Linked DNA regions of Homo sapiens: all the other regions are linked to region 2. Evidence: fine-mapped expression QTL. A gene starts in region 2. Each other region holds a variant in brackets. All regions are shown on one strand. Distances are between the middles of the regions.

What was found. PIP is the estimated chance that this variant, and not a neighbour inherited with it, causes the effect.
Region 1: its variant is fine-mapped to the expression of TACC3 in whole blood (TOPMed, PIP above 0.99).
Region 3: its variant is fine-mapped to the expression of TACC3 in whole blood (INTERVAL, PIP 0.96).

The regions. Positions count from the first base shown.
Region 1 is chr4:1,316,877-1,319,625 of GRCh38, reverse strand. The region is part of intron 3 of MAEA (macrophage erythroblast attacher, E3 ubiquitin ligase); the gene reads right to left. Among named protein-coding and RNA genes, the nearest start is that of MAEA, 28 kb to the right of the region's middle. RefSeq lists an enhancer at 1,682-2,182. The variant C/T (reference allele first, on the strand shown) is at 1,230.
Region 2 is chr4:1,719,893-1,722,641 of GRCh38, reverse strand. It overlaps TACC3 (transforming acidic coiled-coil containing protein 3), which reads right to left and starts at 1,121. Exons shown (of 16, transcript NM_006342.3): 1 at 999-1,121. It overlaps TMEM129 (transmembrane protein 129, E3 ubiquitin ligase), which reads left to right and starts at 1,319. Exons shown (of 4, transcript NM_001127266.2): 1 at 1,319-2,009. The coding sequence starts at 1,805. RefSeq lists enhancers at 291-1,286, 2,369-2,468 and silencers at 909-1,718, 1,729-1,778.
Region 3 is chr4:1,751,494-1,754,242 of GRCh38, reverse strand. No RefSeq gene overlaps it. Among named protein-coding and RNA genes, the nearest start is that of TACC3, 31 kb to the right of the region's middle. RefSeq lists an enhancer at 320-927. The variant G/C (reference allele first, on the strand shown) is at 1,455.

The DNA of each region.
Region 1 (2,749 bases), 400 kb after region 2:
GGCCTTGTTTTGTAGTTTTGCTCTAAATTTCAGGAGGTGGCTCCTGGTCTATATCCTGCCTCATGTCCCGTCAACACAGCCTCGGGGTCTGAACCCAGTTGGATCTCTCTTACTGAGGGTTTCTCCAATGTCCGGGTCTCCGGTTGTGAGAGTCACATGAAAGATGTGAGGCCAGCTGGCAGCAGGCTCGTACGTCAACTGAAACTAGAAACCATCTAAGTGAACTGGTTTTCTGTCTCACACGAAATGCTCATGCTGACTTTTGTTTGTTTTGAGACAGGGTGTTGTCCTGTTGCCCAGGCTGGAGTGCAGTGGTGCAATCTTGGCTCACTGCAGCCTCCACCTCCTGGGCTCAAGTGATCCTCCCACTGCAGCCTCCAGAGTAGCTGGGACCCCAGGCACCCACCAACACTCCCAGCTAATTTGAAAAAAAATTTGTAGAGAAGGGTTCTCACTTTGCTGCCCAGGCTGGTCTCAAACTCCTGGGCTCAACAGATCCGCTCGCCTCAGCCTCCCAGAGTGCTAGGATTACGGGTTGAGAGCCCTGCGTCCAGCCTAAGGCAGCACAGGCAGGCGCACAGCACCAGCCACACTGAGGACTCTGTTCTGCCCCTCCTGGGCAGCCTTCCCTCGGCAGCAGGCTTCCTGTCCTGTTCCTGTGTGGCCTTCCCTGGGCAGCAGCTTCCTGTCCTGTTCCTGGGTGGCCTTCCCTTGGCAGCAGCTTCCTGTCCTGTATTGTCTGGGACCTTGCTCCAATCCAGAGCATGAGGTTATTTTCCTAAGTTTGTCACGTCTCCAATTTTGGTGCACAGGAATTTTGGTGCACAGGTAGGAAACTGGGGTCCCACGTGGGAATTCCATGGCGCCCCCTACAGGAAGTCCAGGTCTGACCAGCGCAGCCGGGGTTTACATTTCCACAACCTGGCAGCTCCCCCTCGGCCACAGCAGCACCTTCCCCAGGGCTTCCTAGTGCCATGGTCACCTGTGGTCAAAAGCGATTCCTCAGCTCAACGCCCTCCGGAGCATCTCAGCAGAAAGAACCCCTCCCCCGCAACCCAGTCCTCATGGGCTCCACACGCCCGCCTTCTTCCACACAGCAGCTCCAGGCCCTCTTTTGGACAGACATGCTCAGGGCACCCCAACACCTTGAGTGTAGCCCGTCTCACCCTGCTGAGGCCTACTCCAACTGGCCTTAGAATCATCAGCACTCCCATATCCACCCTGCTCTA[C/T]GCACTTCTGTGGAACGCGTGGCCTGTGCCCACCACAGGACCCCCTTCTTTCACTTCACGTCTCTCTCCCCCAACACAGCGCACATTCCCTGGGGCCAGGGGCACCCACAGCTCATGCTTCAGCAGCCACCGCCAGGTTGCTTGGTCACACCCCATGGGTCCCAAGGACAGTGTGCTGGGCGTTTAGGAGAGGATGGCTAGGTCATCTATGAACACACGGGGGGCCGCCCCAGGCAGCCAGGACATGTGGGCAGCACGGAGCGAGGGCCTGTGCATTGGGGGAAGCCGGGCACACGGGGCCAGGGAGGCGGGTGGGTGGGAAAGGCATGTGGGACAGGGCACCGGAGCGGACATGTGCTGGCCCACTGTCCGTCACATGAGCCTGGGCAGGTGCAGGTGAGAATGCCCTTCCCTGACACCCAGGTGGAGGAAAAATGGCACCAGATGGGGGCCACAGCAGCCCAGTGGGCAGCACGGCAGAGGCATCACAGACGACCCCGTCCAGCGATGAGAATGTTGGGTGCACACTGGAGTGGCTGCGAGTCATGACCTGGAGACTTCGGAAACTCAACAAGACTGCAGGGCACCCAGGGGCACCAGCCCCGGTCACCGCAGAGGATCAGTGCACTTTGCCATCTGGCAGATCAACTCATGGCACAGCTGTGACACATCACATTCACGCTTGTGAACCGAGACGCCATACCCCAGCGGTGCCGAGAGCAACAGTGCTGTGCAGGTCTGGGCAGATGAGGGCCTCCAGGACACGAGGACTCACTCGCTCACCCTGCCCACTGGGCAGCTGCTCGCCACTCCCCTCCTGGAGGGCAGGACGGACACCACACACACACACAAGCAGGGAGGCTGTGCAGCAGTGGGGAGAAGGCATGGGTGGGAGGGTGCCGCTCCACCCAGGGCAGCATCTGAGAGAAGGTGAACGAGGTGCGGGACAAATGCCGAGGACAAGAGCCAGCAAGAGGGTGGGGCCAGGTGGGTCTGCGGGTGAGTCCGGAGTGTGGGGCCTGCAGATGAGTCCGGAGTGTGGGGCCTGCAGATGAGTCCAGAGTGTGGGGCCTGCGGGTGAGTCTGGAGTGTGGGGCCGGGTGGGCCTGCAGGTGAGTCTGGAGTGTGGGGGCTGGGGTGGGCCTGCGGGTGAGTCTGGAGTGTGGGGGCTGGGGTGAGCCTGCGGGTGAGTCTGGAGTGTGGGGGCTGGGGTGGGCCTGCAGGTGAGTCTGGAGTGTGGGGGCTGGGGTGGGCCTGCGGGTGAGTCTGGAGTGTGGGACCGGGTGGGCCTGCAGGTGAGTGTGGAGTGTGGGGGCCGGGGTGGGCCTGGGGGTGAGTCTGGAGTGTGGGACCGGGTGGGCCTGCAGGTGAGTCTGGAGTGTGGGGGCCGGGGTGGGCCTGGGGGTGAGTCTAGAGTGTGGGGCCGTGGTGGGCCTGCAGGTGAGTCTGGAGTGTGGGGCCGGGTGGGCCTGGGGGTGAGTCTGGAGTGCCGCAAGGCTGGGGAGCTGGGCAGGAGCGTG
Region 2 (2,749 bases):
CCTGGTGGTGGAGGGGGACCTGGGGAGGCTTTGATTTGAAGAAGAGCAAAGTTGGGGAGGGTCCTGGAGAAGAGAGAGGGGGCAGCCCCGGCAGGTCGGTGCTGCAGCTTGAGAAGCCCACTGTGGTGCTGTGTGTGGGTGGGGAGGTTAAGAGCAGAAGGGAAGCAGGGAAACCACAGGCTTCTGGAGCCCAAGGAGTAGATGCCAGACCAGACCCGGGCCTGGCCACTGGCACATATGGGACTTACGGACGACGCTTAGGTTTTCGCCCTGAATAACTGGGTACAGGGCAGGGGAAGGGGTGCTGGATCGCTGGGGGACCCGCAAGCCTCGAACTCAGGGAGAAAGTGACTCGGAGGAAGCCTTCTGGCGGCCTGGAGGAGCTCGGGAGAGCAGCAGACCCAGCCTTAGTCAGGAGGGGCCTTTACTGACTATGGAGGCCCGGGAGGGGCTCTGGGCAGAGAAGGGACCGGCCCCAGGCTGGTGCTTTGGTGCTACTCTGGTGCACAAGAGGGATGCGGTGCGGGGGGAAGGTGGAGCGGCGCAGCAGGTGCGGGGAAGCGGTAGGGGCCCAGGTGTCCGCCGCAGGCGGCCTAGATGGAGTTGGCCCCAGGACGGAGGCCGGAAGGGACCAAAGAACAACAGGAGGGTCCGCGTGCTGGGAGCCAACAAAGAGCCAAGGTGGGCGACCGAGAGACAGGAGAGGGTCGAGGAGAGCAAAGCACCTCGGGGCGCCCGCTCCGCCGTCGGTCTTGGCCCAGCTCTAGCCGCCCCTGGCCACCATCCAGGGGGCCCAGCCCGGCGGTCGGTCTAGGGCCGGGTCCCATGACAGGGCGCGGTACAGGTTCTGGCGGCGGCCCCAGGAGGAGCCGTGGGGGACGCTTCCCGGGGAAAGCGGCGGCCGGGGCGGGAGGGCGAGGGCCGAGGGCGGGGCGGGGCGGGACGGCCTCGCGCCCCCAGGACCCCAGCCTCCCCGCGCCGTGTAGCCGCTCTCCTACCTGCCCGCCCGCCCGTTGCCGGGCTCTGAGCCCGCGCCGCCGCCGCCAGGAAGGAGGGGTCCGCGTCTGCTCCACGCCGGGGGCCAAGCCTAGCTGCTACCGCCGTCGCGCTTCTAGCCCTTGATGGCCGCCGGCGCGCCGGAGTTTCAAACGCCGACGGTTGCCTTCGCGCGGCCAATCAGCGCGCGGCCGGGGGCAGGACCGCAGGAGGGCGGGCGTCCAATGGGAAGCTGTGCCTCGCCGGCTCCGCCCTCCCTCCCCCCCCACCCCCCGCTCGGGCGCCGACGGTTCCGTTTCCGGAGTGGAGGGCACGCCAGGGTGTCTGAAGCTGAGACCCCGGGCTCGCAGTCGCCCCATGAATTTCGAGTTCCGCAACTGACGCTACTGGGCGGGGCTTCATGGCCAGGGCCTCGCTCAGGCCTAAGTTTCCCCACCTGTGCTCAATGCACAGGTGCGGTGCCGCCTCCAGGGCCGGCCGAGAAGAGAGGCCGCACCCGCACGGGGACTGCATCTCCCAGAGCGCCCCGCGAGCGGCCGAGCGGCGGGACTCCATGCCCTAGAGTGCCCCGCGGGCGGCCGGGCGGCGGGACTCCATGTCCTAGAGTGCCCCGCGGGCGGCCGGGCGGCGGGACTCCATGTCCTAGAGTGCCCCGCGGGCGGCCGGGCGGCGGGACTCCATGTCCTAGAGTGCCCCGCGGGCGGCCGGGCGGCGGCCGCCGCAACCGACAGGTCCGGGACTGGGCGCTGCGGCCTCGTCCGCGCGCCGGGGCGGGGGCCTAGCTCGACAGCTTCCCGGCGGCTGCGCGATGGACAGCCCCGAGGTGACCTTCACTCTCGCCTATCTGGTGTTCGCCGTGTGCTTCGTGTTCACGCCCAACGAGTTCCACGCGGCGGGGCTCACGGTGCAGAACCTGCTGTCGGGCTGGCTGGGCAGCGAGGACGCCGCCTTCGTGCCCTTCCACTTGCGCCGCACGGCCGCCACGCTGTTGTGCCACTCGCTGCTGCCGCTCGGTGAGGCTGCTCGGGCCGGCCGGCCGCATCCTCTCCTGCGCAGGGCTTGCTGGGAGGTCAGGAGGAGGCCTCCGCCAGCTCCCCGAGGCCCCGAAAGCGCCTGGGCGCAGCTGGGGAGAGGCGCCGGTCCTCATCCAGAGGGACCGCGGCGTGGGCTGAGCGCGCTTAGGGGCGCCGCCGGCACTGACTTGCAGGTGACGGGAACCCAAGTTCAGAACCTTGGGCAAGGGATGCTCCGGCCCACCAAGTCCTGAACCGTCACGTGCCTGGGGGTTGCAAGGCCAAGCAGCCCTTGCTTGTCGTGGTTGGGGGCAGTGGCCAGGAGAAGGCAACTGTTGATTGAGTCCAACGGAAGGGGTCGGAGGGGCTGTGTGGAGGGTGGCACTGCACTAGGCCTTGGAAGGTGGGTGTGGAGAGAACAGGCGGATTTGGAGGCAGTTCCAGTTTGGGGGCGCCACAGGGGCAGAGGCTGGGGAGGGCCTCTGTGCAGTGCAGGTGGGACGCTCAGAGTTGTCCAGGGGGGTGCTGGGCTGGGCCCCAGGTGCTAGCTGGGGCTCTGGAAGGTCCCTCTCTCAGCTGATTGGATGACGGACAGGTGGGAGGTGGGGTGTGCAGTGGCTGGAGGGGGATTTCAAGGGGGTACCTCTGGAGGACACGGGGGCAGACGCAGCCCTGGGAGGACAGATGGCCAGTGGCTGGCCAGGTTTGCCACTCTGGGGATACAAGAGGGGTGACCCTCC
Region 3 (2,749 bases), 32 kb before region 2:
TAGGCTCAGGGCTCCGCCAGCCCTCCTCCCCACATGCCCCCAGGATGGCCACTTTTCTCTCCCCAGCTGCCTGTCCCACCTCAGGACTGGTGACAGATCCTCACTGGCTGTCCCCTCCCACCTGCCAGAAGCAGTGCCTGAAGTCCAGAGGACTCCAGGTGCCAGGCTCCCCCTGGGGAGGAGCACGGGGCTGGGCAGTCAGCCGGGGAGGAGCAAGCTGGTGGCTGGGACACACAACTCCCCATGGTGTCGGGCTGGGGGCAGCATGCCTGACCTGGCAATGGCCCCGGTGACGGCTGGGGGTGGCCACGGCTGGGCTCAGGCCAGTCTTATCTGTGGAGGCTCAGAGACCAGTGGCCACTTCCTGGGTCTCTGGCGGTGGCGGCTCCCACTATGACTTCCCCAAGCCAGTCTGGTGCCAACACCCTGGGCTGAGAGTCCCCAGCCCCATTGCATGCTCCACAGCACAGGCCCCAAAGGCCACTGTCCAAGGCCACCCCCGGGTGCCCCTCGCCCCACACCTGGCCCCCTCGCGGGCTGGAGACTCGCTGCTTCTGACTCGGGTCCCGGGACAGGGCACCCACCTGGGTCCCAGTGCCCAGGGGCTGCCGCCCACATGCTGAGCCCCTGACCCTGGAGTTTCAGGTCCCAGATGGAAAGTGGGGAGGGTGCCTGTCTCCGGCTTCTGGAGATCCCTGGGAGGGCACCCTCCTCCACGTGGGCCCGGGAACAGGAAGTGCTTGACGGGGCTCCCAGGTGGGGCCAGCACTGCTCTGTGGGTTTTTCCAGGGAGGGGCTCCTGGGATCTGAAGTCCTCTAAGACCCCCCACCCCCAGCCCCCAGCAGGCAGGGACCCTGCCACGCTTCCCTCTGAGGTCTCCACAGGAGTGGGTGCGGGTCCTGTGGCTTTGCTGGAGGTAGGGCTGGGGCCTCCTGCAGCCCCAGGTCACTGGTCTATGATTGTCACCATCGGGTGGTGGCTGGCCTGGAGAGTGTCTCCTCTCGCGGGTGGAGTCAGGGGCCTGGGTTTCAGGTTGGGGGCTTGGGGACTTCAGTGAGAAGACAGGCCAGGACCTGGCCATGGACAAGGGGACAGCAGGAGAGAAGGGGGTGCTGCCCCCAGCTGGGACCCCAGAGCCCCCCACCTGGTTCCCATCTCCTCTGCCTCCTCCCCTTTGCCAAGAGGCCTCACCACCAGCACCCCAAGTCCCCACAGGCTGGTGCCCCGCGAGGCCCCGGGCACTTCCTCCAGGAAGCCTTCTCCCACCCCTGCAGCTCAGCCACACCCAGCGGCCCCCAGCCAGAGGAGGGGCACCTGGGACCAGACAAGCCTGGGCTCGGGGCAGAGGTGCCTTCCTGCTTTCTGGGCGTGTGGGGAGGGGGTTCCCAGAAATGCCGAGGAGGCCTGGCCGGCAGCCCGAGGGGAGAGCCCCTGGCGCTTCCTGCTTGGTGAG[G/C]AGGCAGGCCTCTGCCGCCTGAGCTCGGAGAAGTGGGAGAAGCGAGTCAACGACAACAACCATCATCGCCCGCCCTCCTCTTCCCAGGCCTATGTGGAGGAGGGCGCCCTCCCCGGGATCTCCAGAGGCCTGACCCCTGGCTGGTGGGCGGGGCAGGCGTCCTGTGCTGCCCCTGAGCCTGTGCCTGCACCGTGCCCATCCGGCTGCCCGGCAGGACCCTGCCCGCTGTCCTGGGCTCCCGAATCAGAGCCCCTCTGGGCTGAGGGGAGGTCACCGTTCCCCAGCTGAGTGGATTACCTGGGGCGGGGCAGAAAGGCCCGTCGCCTGTGGGTTGGGGTCTGCCTTGCCCTACCCTGCCTGAGAGGGTGAAATGAGCTCATGTTCCTGGCAGAGGAGCCAGCACCTGGCGCAGAGGGAAATGAGCTGTGCCGTGGGCACGTTGGGGCGGGGGAGATCCAGCCTGAATCCGCCCAGCTTGGGCTGCCCTCCGGCCAGGTGTGGCCTCCCAGGGGAACACTGTGGACCCTCTCGACAGCTGAGAGGTGGGGCAGGTCGGGCACTGACCAGGATTCCCAGCCTCCTCTAGGAGAGGGCCCAGCCTGGCCATGCTCCCTCCCACGCTGGGGCCCAGCTCAGGAGCCCCCACCTCCAGGAAGTCCCTCAATGCTGAGGGCCCGCCTCCATCCCCACCCATGCTGGGTTGTCCAGAGTGCTGACCACACAGAGGCGAGTGAGCAGCATGGCCTTGTCCCGGGGCCTGCACCTCATCACCAGCATTGGGGGTGACAAAGGCCCCTGAGCTCTGCGGGTGTGGACCTCAGGGAGGCCAAGCTCCTCCAGGCCACAGGTTCGGGCTGGGGAGGGGACACTCTCCTGGGAGCAGCTCCCTGCTTGGCAGGCGCACCTTAACCTGGAGAGCTGGGTGCACAGGCAGGAGCCTCCGGGCCTGGATAGCCAGTGAGCCTGGCAGGGTGGTGGGGACACAGATGGACGTCCCCAGCAGGGATGGTGCGGGTGGAGGGAGGAGCGCCCGGCAGGTCCCTGCTGTCTGGGTCTGCTCTGGTGGTGGCTGCGGGTGAGCGCCTGTGGACTGGTGGCGTGGCACTGGGCTGCTCGGCCGTGTGTTTCTGATTCCTCGAGGCCTCCCCAGCGCGGTGTGTGTGCAAGGTACCCCCACCCTGGGCCCACTCAGTGTCCCGGGCTGCCTGGCCTGGTGCAGGACCACCCACCAGGCGGCCCCTGTCCATCTGGGGTGGGGGTTGTGGGTGAACCCTGGGGGTAAAGAGGCCACCTCC